Regions from separate parts of the Homo sapiens genome. Here region 2 is linked to region 1. Evidence: fine-mapped expression QTL. A gene starts in region 1. The other region holds a variant in brackets. All regions are shown on one strand. Distances are from middle to middle.

The links. PIP is the estimated chance that this variant, and not a neighbour inherited with it, causes the effect.
Region 2: its variant is the best candidate, but not a certain one, in a credible set for the expression of LINC01168 in lung (GTEx, PIP 0.50).

The regions. Positions count from the first base shown.
Region 1 is chr10:132,962,409-132,967,774 of GRCh38, forward strand. It overlaps LINC01168 (long intergenic non-protein coding RNA 1168), which reads left to right and starts at 3,126. Exons shown (of 3, transcript NR_046231.1): 1 at 3,126-3,499. LINC01166 (long intergenic non-protein coding RNA 1166) reads right to left here and starts at 2,881. Exons shown (of 2, transcript NR_120627.1): 1 at 2,778-2,881. RefSeq lists an enhancer at 1-322.
Region 2 is chr10:133,006,408-133,011,773 of GRCh38, forward strand. It overlaps LOC112268067. Among named protein-coding and RNA genes, the nearest start is that of LINC01168, 44 kb to the left of the region's middle. RefSeq lists an enhancer at 1,504-2,331. The variant A/G (reference allele first, on the strand shown) is at 3,173.

The DNA.
Region 1 (5,366 bases):
GCATAAATCGCCCCTTAATCTGCATGCGATTAAAAGCGGTATAAGTGTGACTGCAAAACTGCCCCAAGCGGCTGCTCTCTGCCTACGGGGCGGCCCCGCTGCAGGAGCAGTCAGGGAGCTGTGAGCTGTGGCACGGCCGCCTGAATAAAGCTCTTTCCTTCTACCTGCGGCTTGCCCTTGAATTCCCTCCAGGGTAAAGCCAAGAACCGTCGGGGCTCAGCCCCACCTGGGGGCTCCCCTGCCCCGCACCACCGAAGTCTTGGATGGGTAACTGGAAGATGCCATTGTGAATAGAAATATCCTTTCTCGATGAATTAGAAAATGAAACCAACTCCTGCATTAATTTTACACAAATGACATCAAGAGGGTTGAGAGAAGAAGGTGGCTGTCCCCAGCTCCGGGTCCCTGCCAGCCTTATGATAGTCTTCTAAGGCCATCTATTATTTCCTGAAATATTCATAGAAGTATGAAAAATTGAGCATGAGTGGTTTGCTTTGTGCTTCGTTATTTATTAAGCTTGTGACTTATTTTTCTTTTGGCGAAGAGCTTCCTATCTTTTCCAAGAAAAAAAAAGTGGGCCAGAATAACAGCCCTCATGTTTTGAGCTTGAAATTAAAATTTCGAAGACCTCCCTGTACAAAGTGAAGCTGAGTAAAGATGTTTACAAATGCAGATTGAAAATGAAAAATGCAAGGGCCTTTGTGACTCATTTTATGAATATGTGTTTTTATCAAAGAACTCCCATAAGTTGACTCGGAGCCTGATTTGCATCTAGGGTTTCATCCTTGCTTGGTGGTGGACTGGCCGTCCCTTCATCCCTTCTATAAGTCCATTAACATCCCTCCCTCCATCTGTCCGTCAACATCCCTCCCTCCATCCATCTGTCTATCAACATTCCTCCCTCCCTCCATCTGTCCATCAAAATCCCTCCCTTCATCCATCTGTCTATCAACATTCCTCCCTCCCTCCATCTGTCCATCAACATCCCTCCCTCCATCCATCCGTCCATCAACATCCCTTCCTCCATCCATCCGTCCATCAACATCCCTCCATCCATCCGTCCATCAACATCCCTCCCTCCATCCATCCGTCCATCAACATCCCTCCCTCCATCCATCCGTCCATCAACATCCCTCTCTCCATCCATCCATCCATCAACATTCCTGGCACCTGCTCAGCATCGGGGGGGCATCCCAGCCCTCACAGGGAGCAGGCACAGTAGGTACAGGTAGAGGCTCCCTGCCTGCTCAGCCCCAGGCCGCTCCTGAGAGCACCCCCAAAGCCACAGGTCACAGCACATTGCCCCTGATTTTACCCCATTAGGAGAGGGAAGATGTGCCCAAGGGGACTGGTGAGCCACAGGGAGGCGGATTCCTGGGCTGCAGCTTAAAACAAGACACTTGTTCCCTCATGGTTCCGGAAGCCAGAGTCCAAGATTGAGGTGTAGGCCTGCGCTCCCTCAGAGCTGCTCGCTCCAGGGAGATCCCTCCTCGGCGCTTCTGCTTCTGGTGACTCCGGGTGTCCTCAGCATCGCCCAGCCCCACCTCCATCTTTGCAAGCCTCTCCTTTCTCCCATAAGGATGCCAGGCACCGGATTTCAGGCCCATACTAAATCCAAGATGATCTCATCATGATATCCTTAACTTTTTACATCTGCGAAGACCCTGTTTCCAAACTGGTCACGTTTGTAGGAACCAGGGCTTAGGACTCGAACATATCTTTTGGGGAGACAAGATTCATCCCCCATGAGCATGGGTTCAGAGAGCAACGGCTTTAGCACTACCGAGGTCTTAATCCAAGCTTCCTGTCAGGATTTAATACAAGGGAGGCTGAACTGCCGGGGAGCTCAGAAATGCACGAGCAAGACATGAGCGTAGGGGAGGTTCCCGGGGTGCCTCGACTGTCCAGGCTTGCAGCTGCAGGTGGAGAGGAGGCAAGGCTGTTTGCCCATTTCAGCCTCAGAACAGTCACAGCCCAGCAGCCGGCGGCCTGTCCATGATGACCATTCTGCTCCGGAGCCTACACAGAGGGCACTGTTCACCCTGCGGCCGCCTCCCTGCGCTCCAAGGATCAGCCTCATGATAAGGTCAGAAAGAACCTTGGCTTTAGGGTCTGTCCCGCGTGGCCACCTGTTCTGTATGTTAAAACCGACTTGCCTGCCATTTCTCTTCTTATCCCTCACACCCACCCACCCAGCCTGGGCCAGGCCTGGTTCTAGGGCGCGGCCAACGGTCGGGGACAAAATATTCATGGTTTCTGGGTTCGTGGTCAGGCAGTTTGGGTGGACACAAGCAAGTGCCACGTAAAATAAGCAACGGTGAGAATGGTTATGAGTCGCAATGACACTGTGAGGCACTTTAACAGGCTCATCGGCGTGGCCCTAGGCCCTGCCCTCTGTGAGCCCAGGTCACCCCCAGGACGCCCAGCGGCTGCTGCGCCACCTCCCTCCTCCCACTGTGGCCAGGCCTGGCGGGCGGGTGCTGCCTCCCGACACGCACACTTTGCCGGGGCAGGTCCGCGCCAGCGCCGTCGCCAGAAGAGCCTCACAAAGACGCGGCTGCCACCGTTTGGCGTCTTTGAAGACTGTTCAGCAGGTCTGAGGATGAGCTGCTCTGAGGGTTTTTCCCAACTTACCATTTTGATACAACGTCAAACATATGTAAAAGTCACAAGAATACGACAAGGAACTGCCATTAGAGCCTTAGGCGAATTCACCAACTGTTCCCACTTCTCACCGGTGTCACCTTCCCACCGTTCCCACTCCTCACTGGCGTTACCTTCCCTCCGTTCCCACTTCTCCTCAACGGCGTTACATTCCTGCGGTTCCCACTTCTCACCGGTGTCACCTTCCCACCGTTCCCACTCCTCACTGGCGTTACCTTCCCACCGTTCCCACTCCTCACTGGCGTTACCTTCCCTCCGTTCCCACTTCTCCTCAACGGCGTTACATTCCTGCGGTTCCCACTTCTCACCGGTGTCACCTTCCCACCGTTCCCACTCCTCACTGGCGTTACCTTCCCTCCGTTCCCACTTCTCCTCAACGGCGTTACCTTCCTGCGGTTCCCACTTCTCACCGGTGTCACCTTCCCACCGTTCCCACTCCTCACTGGCGTTACCTTCCTGCCATTCCCACTTCTCCTCACGGCGTTACCTTCCTGCCGTTCCCACTTCTCCTCAATGGTGTTTCCTTCCCGCCTTTCCCACTTCTCACCAGCGTTACCTTCCCGCCATTCCTACTTCTCCTCAACGACGTTACCTTCCCTCTGTTCCCACTTCTCACTGGCGTTACCTTCATGCTGTTCCTACTTCTCCTCATGCCATTACCTTCCTGCCATTCCCACTTCTCCTCACGCATTACCTTCCTGCTGTTCCCAATTCTCTCTGGCGTTACCTTCCTGCTGTTCTGCCGTTCACGCGTGTTTATATGTGTTTGCATGTGTTTACATGTGTTTGCATGTGCCTGTGTCTGCATATGCGCATTTCCCTGAATCGACGGAGGGTGAGTTGAGAGTTGAAGAAATTATGCCATTTTACTGCTAAATACCTCAGCGTGTACTTCCTGACAAAGACACTTCTTTTCATTACCACAGTATAGCTGTCAAAATCAGGAAAGTTCACACCAATGAAATATCTAATCCAGAGTCCATACTCAGATTTCATCAATTGTGCCTAAACATCCCTTTAGCTTTTTCCCACTACATCCTGGATCTAATCCAGGACCGCGGGCCTATGACCTTTTCAAAGTCCTAATTTCCATCCTTCTTCAACAGTTCTTGTAGCCTTTCTTTGTATTTCTTGACCTTGACATTTTTGTGAGTGTTTGTCAGCGACTTTGCAGAGTGCCCCTCAGTCTGGGTTGACGTTCGGATTTTCCATTTTATTCTAAGGTGGTTTTGGTAAATTGTATTATTCAAGGACTTTCCCCCATTTCATTGTAATTGCCAAATGTATTGGCATAAACTGGTTTATCATGTTCCCTGATTTCCCTTTTAGTGACTGTAGAATCTCTATATTTCCTCTTTCATTTCTGATATTGGCAATTTAGGCTTTTCCCTCTTTATTTTTCTTTTATCTTGGTTGATCTGTTTTGTGTTTTTGTTTGTTTAAGACAGGATCTCACTCTGTCTCCTGGGCTGCAGTGCAGTGGTGCAATCATAGCTCACTGCAGCCTCAAACTCCTGGGCTCAAGTGATCCTCCTGCCTCAGTCTCCTGAATAGCTGGGACTACAGGCATGCAACACCACACCTGGCTACTTAAAGAAAATATTTTTTGGAGAGATGGGGTCTTGCTGTGTTGCCCAAGCTGGTCTTGAACTCCTGGCCTCAAGCAATCCTCCTGCCTTGGCCTCTGAAAGTGCTGGGATTACAAGTGTGAGCTTCGGTGCCAGGCCTCCTGATCAGTCTTATGGGGTCTGGCTCTGTCACCCAGGCTGGAGTACAATGGTGCAATCTCAGCTCACTGCAACCTCTGCCTCCCGGGTTCAAGCCATTCTCCTGCCTCAGCCTCCCGAGTAGCTGGAACTACAGGCATGCACCACCACACTCAGCTAGTTTTTTTATTATTATTATTTTTAGTAGAGACGGGGTTTCACCATGTTAGCCAGGATGGTCTCAATCTCCTGACCTCATAATCCGCCCCCCTTGGCCTCCCAAAGTGCTGGGATTACAGGCGTGAGCCACCATGCCCGGCCCTGATCGGTCTTATGATCAGTCTTATAAGTGAAATGGGAAAGGTTCCCTTGTTCCCCTTGCAGGGTGTGCGATGGGGGTGTGGCTTGCTTCTTCAGTGCCCCGATGCTCAAACTAGCCAGGGGAGCATACAGACGAGCAGGCTGGGGGGCTCTGACCCCATGGCAGTGTCTAGGGGTGAATGTTTCCAGCTCCTGACGCTGCAGTGGACATGTGCTACCATATGTTCTTACTTTGCCATCTATAGGTGGCTTATGTTCACCAGCTCAATTAGACCTTGTTGCAAGGACAGAGGGCATTCCGTATCCAGGATTCTTGCCTTGGTGCACCGGAAGAATCGAATCAAACCTGGGCTTGGAGAATGACTGCAATGTTTTATTGCGTGGAGGTAGCTCCGGGGAAGTCAGAGGGGGATGGAGTGGGAAGGTTTTCCTCTGGAGTCAGGCCACTTGGCAGCCTGGTCTCTCCAACTGCCCTGGCCAAACTCCACGTCGTTCTGCCGATCGGTCGGTGTCCTTCTGGCGTGCTGGTGACTGTCGGAGCGTTGCTCACCACGTCCAGCTGCCCGTGTGTTCCTCCACTGATGTGCTCCTCTTGATGTCCACCTGCCTGTGTGCCTGCCTGCTAGAGTCTCAGGGTTTTTATAGGCACAGGATGTGACAGGGGTGTGACAGGCC
Region 2 (5,366 bases), 44 kb after region 1:
TCCCTCTGCCGCAGAAGCATCTGGGGGTCTGGTGTGGCTCGGGGCTTCCTCCGGACCCTGGAGGAGATGGTCTGGCTATCCAGATGGGAGTCTGCACAGCAGCGTAGGCCACAGGCCTTGTCCTCTCACAGCCCCAGAGGCTGCAAGCCTGAGATCAAGGTGCCCGCAGGGCTGGGAAGGGTCCTCACGTCCCCACAGCGTTCCTCTCAGTGCATGTCTGTGTCCACATGTCCCTTTCCTTCAGGACCTCAGTCATGCTGGACCAGAGCTCACCCCATGACTAAACTTTAACCCACTTGCCTTCGGAAAGGTCCTGTCTGCCAGGAAGGCCACACCCAAGAGCGAGAGACGGGAACCAGGGACACAGTTCCACTCACACAAGGCCACCTCCCGTGGACAAGTGACCTCCTGTGGACAAGTGACCTCCCGTGGACACGTGGTCCCCACAGGACGAAGAGTCCATCAGGCCTTCCCTGGGCCAGGCAAGGGTTTAGCTTCTGACGACCACGTACTCTGCGGTCTCAGGTGGACGTCGTCCTGCGCCGTGAGGAGGGCCCGAGGGAGAGCGCAGCCAGGGCCCCGGCTCATTCCACAGCCCAGTGAGCAGCCGCGCCTGCCTGGCTGTCCAGAAGGCTCTGGGACCCTGGGACACTCAATGTGGCTCAGCACACCTCACAGGAGGATTTGGCGTCTCCCTGGGGGTGAGGAGCCACGCCTGCCGTGGGGGCACAGGGGGCTCAGGGTGGGAGCAGGTGACATTTGGGGGAAAGGAAATGAGCTCCCCAGGATTCACAGTACCTTCACATCATACAGGGGTGACAGTCGGAACCCGATCTGAGATGGCTGGGGCTTCCCAGCACACGGGCCTCAGTTTACCTTCACCCAGGGCCAACTGAATGGCTCCTGGGCCTCCACTCTTGGGAGGGGCTGGCCGAGGTTTTATGTCCCAGTTGGCCCAGGGCGCTCGGTCACATGGGACATTCCTGCCTGCCAGGTCCCTGTTCCCCTCCCAGCCCCCAGCCAGGCACATGGCAGAGGGAGAGGAATCTCACCTGCCGGCAGTGGTGACAGCCAGTCCCTGGGGAGGAAGCTGTCCTGGAGGGGACACCCAGGCCAGGCTTTGAGGCAAGGAACCAGGGCACAGCTGGCCTCCCAGGGCCTGGGTGGCCTTTGAGAGCCAGGGTGTGGGACAAGTGAGTCGGCACAGAGGCCTGGACCCAGATCGGCCGGGCGGCAGCCTGGAGATGCCCACCAGGCCCAGGTGACGTCAGAGTCAGTCTGGGAACAAGGCAGAGGGCCGGGCACCTTCCCAAACACAGCCCCACCCCCGCGGCCTCTATTGGGCAGAGGCAGGAAGTCCGGGGGTTCTGGGCAAACCTGACCCAGAGGCCAAGGGTCCCAGGAAAGGGAGCCCCACAGCCTAGGCACAGCTGGCACCTCCCTGGAAAGAGGGGCTGGAAACAGAGGGGCAGATTGTCAGTAAGCTGAAGAATTGTCCGTAATCACGGGACGGCCTTAGTTATGTTTCCCACACTTAGGACTTGAGAGAGACGGCAACTGAATGCTTGTCATCAAAAGAAAAAAGTGGAAAAAAACAACCCAGTAGGCTTAAAATGAAGGAAGAGCATTCACATTTACAACACTGATGAACGTAGCTTCATCTTTCTCTCCTGAAAGTTTCCCAGCCTCCTAAGTGCTCTGTCCTTGCCTAGAATGTTTTCCTTTAATCTACATATTGGGTTAGACCGGCCTCCCCTTTCTCTCACATCCCAGGAGTGGTGGATGGGTAAGACCCTGCCTCGGGACCATGTTTGGAGGGTCCCGCCAGCCGTGCTCCGAGCGTCAGGGCAGCTGTGGTGTGCGAGGTGTTTGGACGAGACCAGGAGGACCGGCACTGGGCCACCATCTGGGAGCGTCTCTCTCACACCTCCCTCGGTGACGGGGAGGGAAGGAGGGCCGGGCCCCCAGGAGCGTCTCTCTCACACCTCCCTCGGTGATGCGGAGGGAAAGAGGGCCGGGCCCCCCGGGCCTGTGAGAGAGGGTCTCAGAGGAGCCTACTGCTGCAGAGCCCGATCTGGTGAGGGGGTGGCGGCTCACATCACAGAGCCACAGGCTGAGTGTCAGGCCGGGCCCCGCAATTCTGGAAGATCCAGTGCGAAAGTGCTTGCTCTGCTCCAAACCCGGGTCCTGGTCTGGACACAGCAGCCTGAGCCCTGGGAAGAGATTCAGCAGCTGCCCGGGAGCTGGGCGGGGAAGGGCTACTCACCCGGACATTGCCCAGAGTGTACTCGAGGGGCCCCTAGCTCACTGCACGGCAGCTGGGAACATCTCCTGACCCACAGGGCCAGGCTGAGCCACAGGGTGGACAAAGCATCCCCCTGCACTCTCCTGGACTCCAGGCACAGATTCTCTCAGACTGACTCTGCAATTCCAACCGAGGTCACACTCCCAAGCCCAGCACAACAGCCTCGCTGGAGTCCATCTCACGCCAGCACAAACGGCCTGCCTGGACGCAAACATCAGGTATGGGCTGCACCAGGCCCCTGCAGATGGGTACGACCCTCACGCCACTGCGAGCCGCAGCCTCAGCGCACTTTGGGAAGAAGCAGAGAAGCATGATAATGTCTGGGGCTCAATGTGGCTGTGATTACCATGAACAGAATAAGCCTGAAGGAGAACGGCTCTTTCCCCAACTTCAGAGTCAGGAGAGCATGTCTGTGAATGCCCACTCCCGCCTTGGAAGGAGGTTTAACCTGAGAAAAATGGTCCTGGGGGCTGTGGTTTCTGAGACAGCAGCCGTGGGGAGGGCCAGGAGAGGCCCATGCTGACACAGAGGCAGCACCATCTTTCCTAGGCAGGAAGGGGCCAGATTCTTCTCCAGAGAAACTGACGTGTCAGGAGAAAACCCTTTGGCCCTGTCCCTGCAGAGGTCATGAGACAGCCAGGCCCCACCCTCTCTCAGGGCGCCAGCCAGCCTTCCAGTTACCCACACTTGAATGTGAGTGACGCCCTCAGGCCACCAAGGGCGTGACTCTCCCACACGGGAGTGGCCCAGAACCAGACCCAGGGCAGGAAGTAGAAAACTTTAAAATATTTTGGTCTGCACAGGGCTCCTGTCCCCGGCACCTGGGGCTCCTCCCCGGCCCCTCTGCTCCAGGTCAGCAGAGGAGGA[A/G]AGAGAAGGAGGTGGGGTGCTAGGAGGGCTCCTGGGGGCTGGACCTGAGATAATGGACCTCGGGAAGTCAGGTTCCGTTGGCCAGACACGCCCATGCAGCCTCCCCAATGCAGGGAAGGCCGGGAAGTCCCTGCTCAGCGGCTGCCACCGCCCGAGCCCCGCACACACTCCCTCCTGAGAGCAGCCCGAGAGTCCTGTCTTCAGGAGGCAATACTTAGCACTCCTCATAGCACTGGGTGCGGCACGGGGCAGGGCCTGGGGCAGGCGGTGCGTGGTGACACCTCTGGGCTGACGGCCTGTTCTGTGGATACAAACAGCGTGGAAGAGAAAGTGGCTTCAAATCAACACAACTCGGCTTCAAAAAGCAAATCCCTGGGATGCCCTCCTGCCTTCAGCCTGAAAACGGCCAGCGCGATGCTGCCGCTTCTGTGGTCCGTGCGGCCTGCCTTCTCCAGCGGGGTCAGGCGGGGCGGTCCTTGCCCCTGCAGCCCACCCCAGCTCCGGCAGTGCTGGGAACGCCAGCGGCTCCTCCGCCTTAGGAACCAGAGGTGGCTGCCTTTGTCCCTCATCATGCAGCCCAGAGCCAGGAGGTCTGTGTCCAGGGATGTTCCCTGTGTCCAGTTCAGGGCCAGGGGGTCTGTGCGGAGATGTTCCCTGTGTCCAGTTCAGAGCCGGGGGTTTGTGTCTGGAGATGTTCCCTGTGTCCAGTTCGGGGCCAGGGGGTCTGTGTGCGGAGATGTTCCCTGTGTCCAGTTCAGGGCCGGGGGGTGTGTGCGGAGATGTTCCCTGTGTCCAGTTTGGAGCCGGGGGTCTGTGTCCGGAGATGTTCCCTGTGTCCAGTTCAGAGCCGGGGGTCTGTGTCCAGGGACACTCCCCTCTGTCCAGTGTGAGGCGCGTGGGCCGGCTGGAGGTCCCTCCCCGAAGGTCTGTCTCACAGCTGTGGGTGCCGCAGCACTGGGACCAGGCTGCACCCACCGGTCTGGGCCTCAGGTTCTGAGGGCTGCTGCTGGTGCCTGGGCCAGGGAAAGGCACGGTGGGAGCTGGTCTCCGGCTCAGAGATGCCCAGCTGCTGGCTCAGGCTGGGCCGCAGGAGCCTGTTGTTCCTGCATCCGCCTGTGGTGTTAGCGTGTGTGATGTGTTAGCATGTGTGATGTGTGTTAGTGGGTGTGGTGTGTGTTGGTGGGTGTGGTGTGTGTTGGTGTGGTGTGTTAGTATGTGTGATGTGTTTTGGCATGTGTGATGTGTTAGTGTGTGATGTGTTAATGTGTTACCTGTTAGCATGTGTGATGTGTGTTTGTGTGATGTGTGTTAGCGTGTGTGATGTGTGCTTGTGTGATGTGTTTTCGTGTGTGTGATTGTTAGTGTGTGTGATGTGTGCTTGTGTGATGTGTTTTAGCACGTGTGATGTGTGTTAGTGTGTGATGTGTGTGTTAGTGTGTGATGTGTGTTAGCGTGTGTGATGTGTGCTTGTGTGATGTGTTAGTGTGTGTGATGTGTGCTTGTGATGTGTTTTAGCACGTGTGATGTGTGTTAGTGTGTGATGTGTGTGTTAGTGTGTGATGTGTGTTAGCGTGTGTGATGTGTGCTTGTGTGATGTGTTTTCGTGTGTGTGATGTTAGTGTGTGTGATGTGTGCTTGTGTGATGTGTTTTAGCACGTGTGATGTGTGTTAGTGTGTGATGTGTGTTAGCGTGTGTGATGTGTGCTTGTGTGATGTGTTTTCGTGTGTGTGATGTGTGTTTGTGTGATGTGTTAGCGTGTGTGATGTGTGCTTGTGTGATGTGTTTTTGTGTGTGTGATGTGTTAGTGTGTGTGATGTGTGTTTGTGTGATGTGTGTTAGCGTGTGTGATGTGTGCTTGTGTGATGTGTTTTTGTGTGTGTGATGTGTTAGTGTGTGTGATGTGTGCTTGTGTGACGTGTTTTAGCACGTGTGATGTGTGTTAGTGTGTGATGTGTGTTAGTGTGTGATGTGTGTTAGCGTGTGTGATGTGTGCTTGTGTGATGTGTTTTTGTGTGTGTGATGTGTTAGTGTGTGTGATGTGTGCTTGTGTGATGTGTTTTCGTGTGTGTGATGTGTTAGTGTGTGTGATGTGTGCTTGTGTGATGTGTTTTAGCACGTGTGATGTGTGTTAGTGTGTGATGTGTGTTAGTGTGTGATGTGTGTTAGCGTGCGTGATGTGTGCTTGTGTGATGT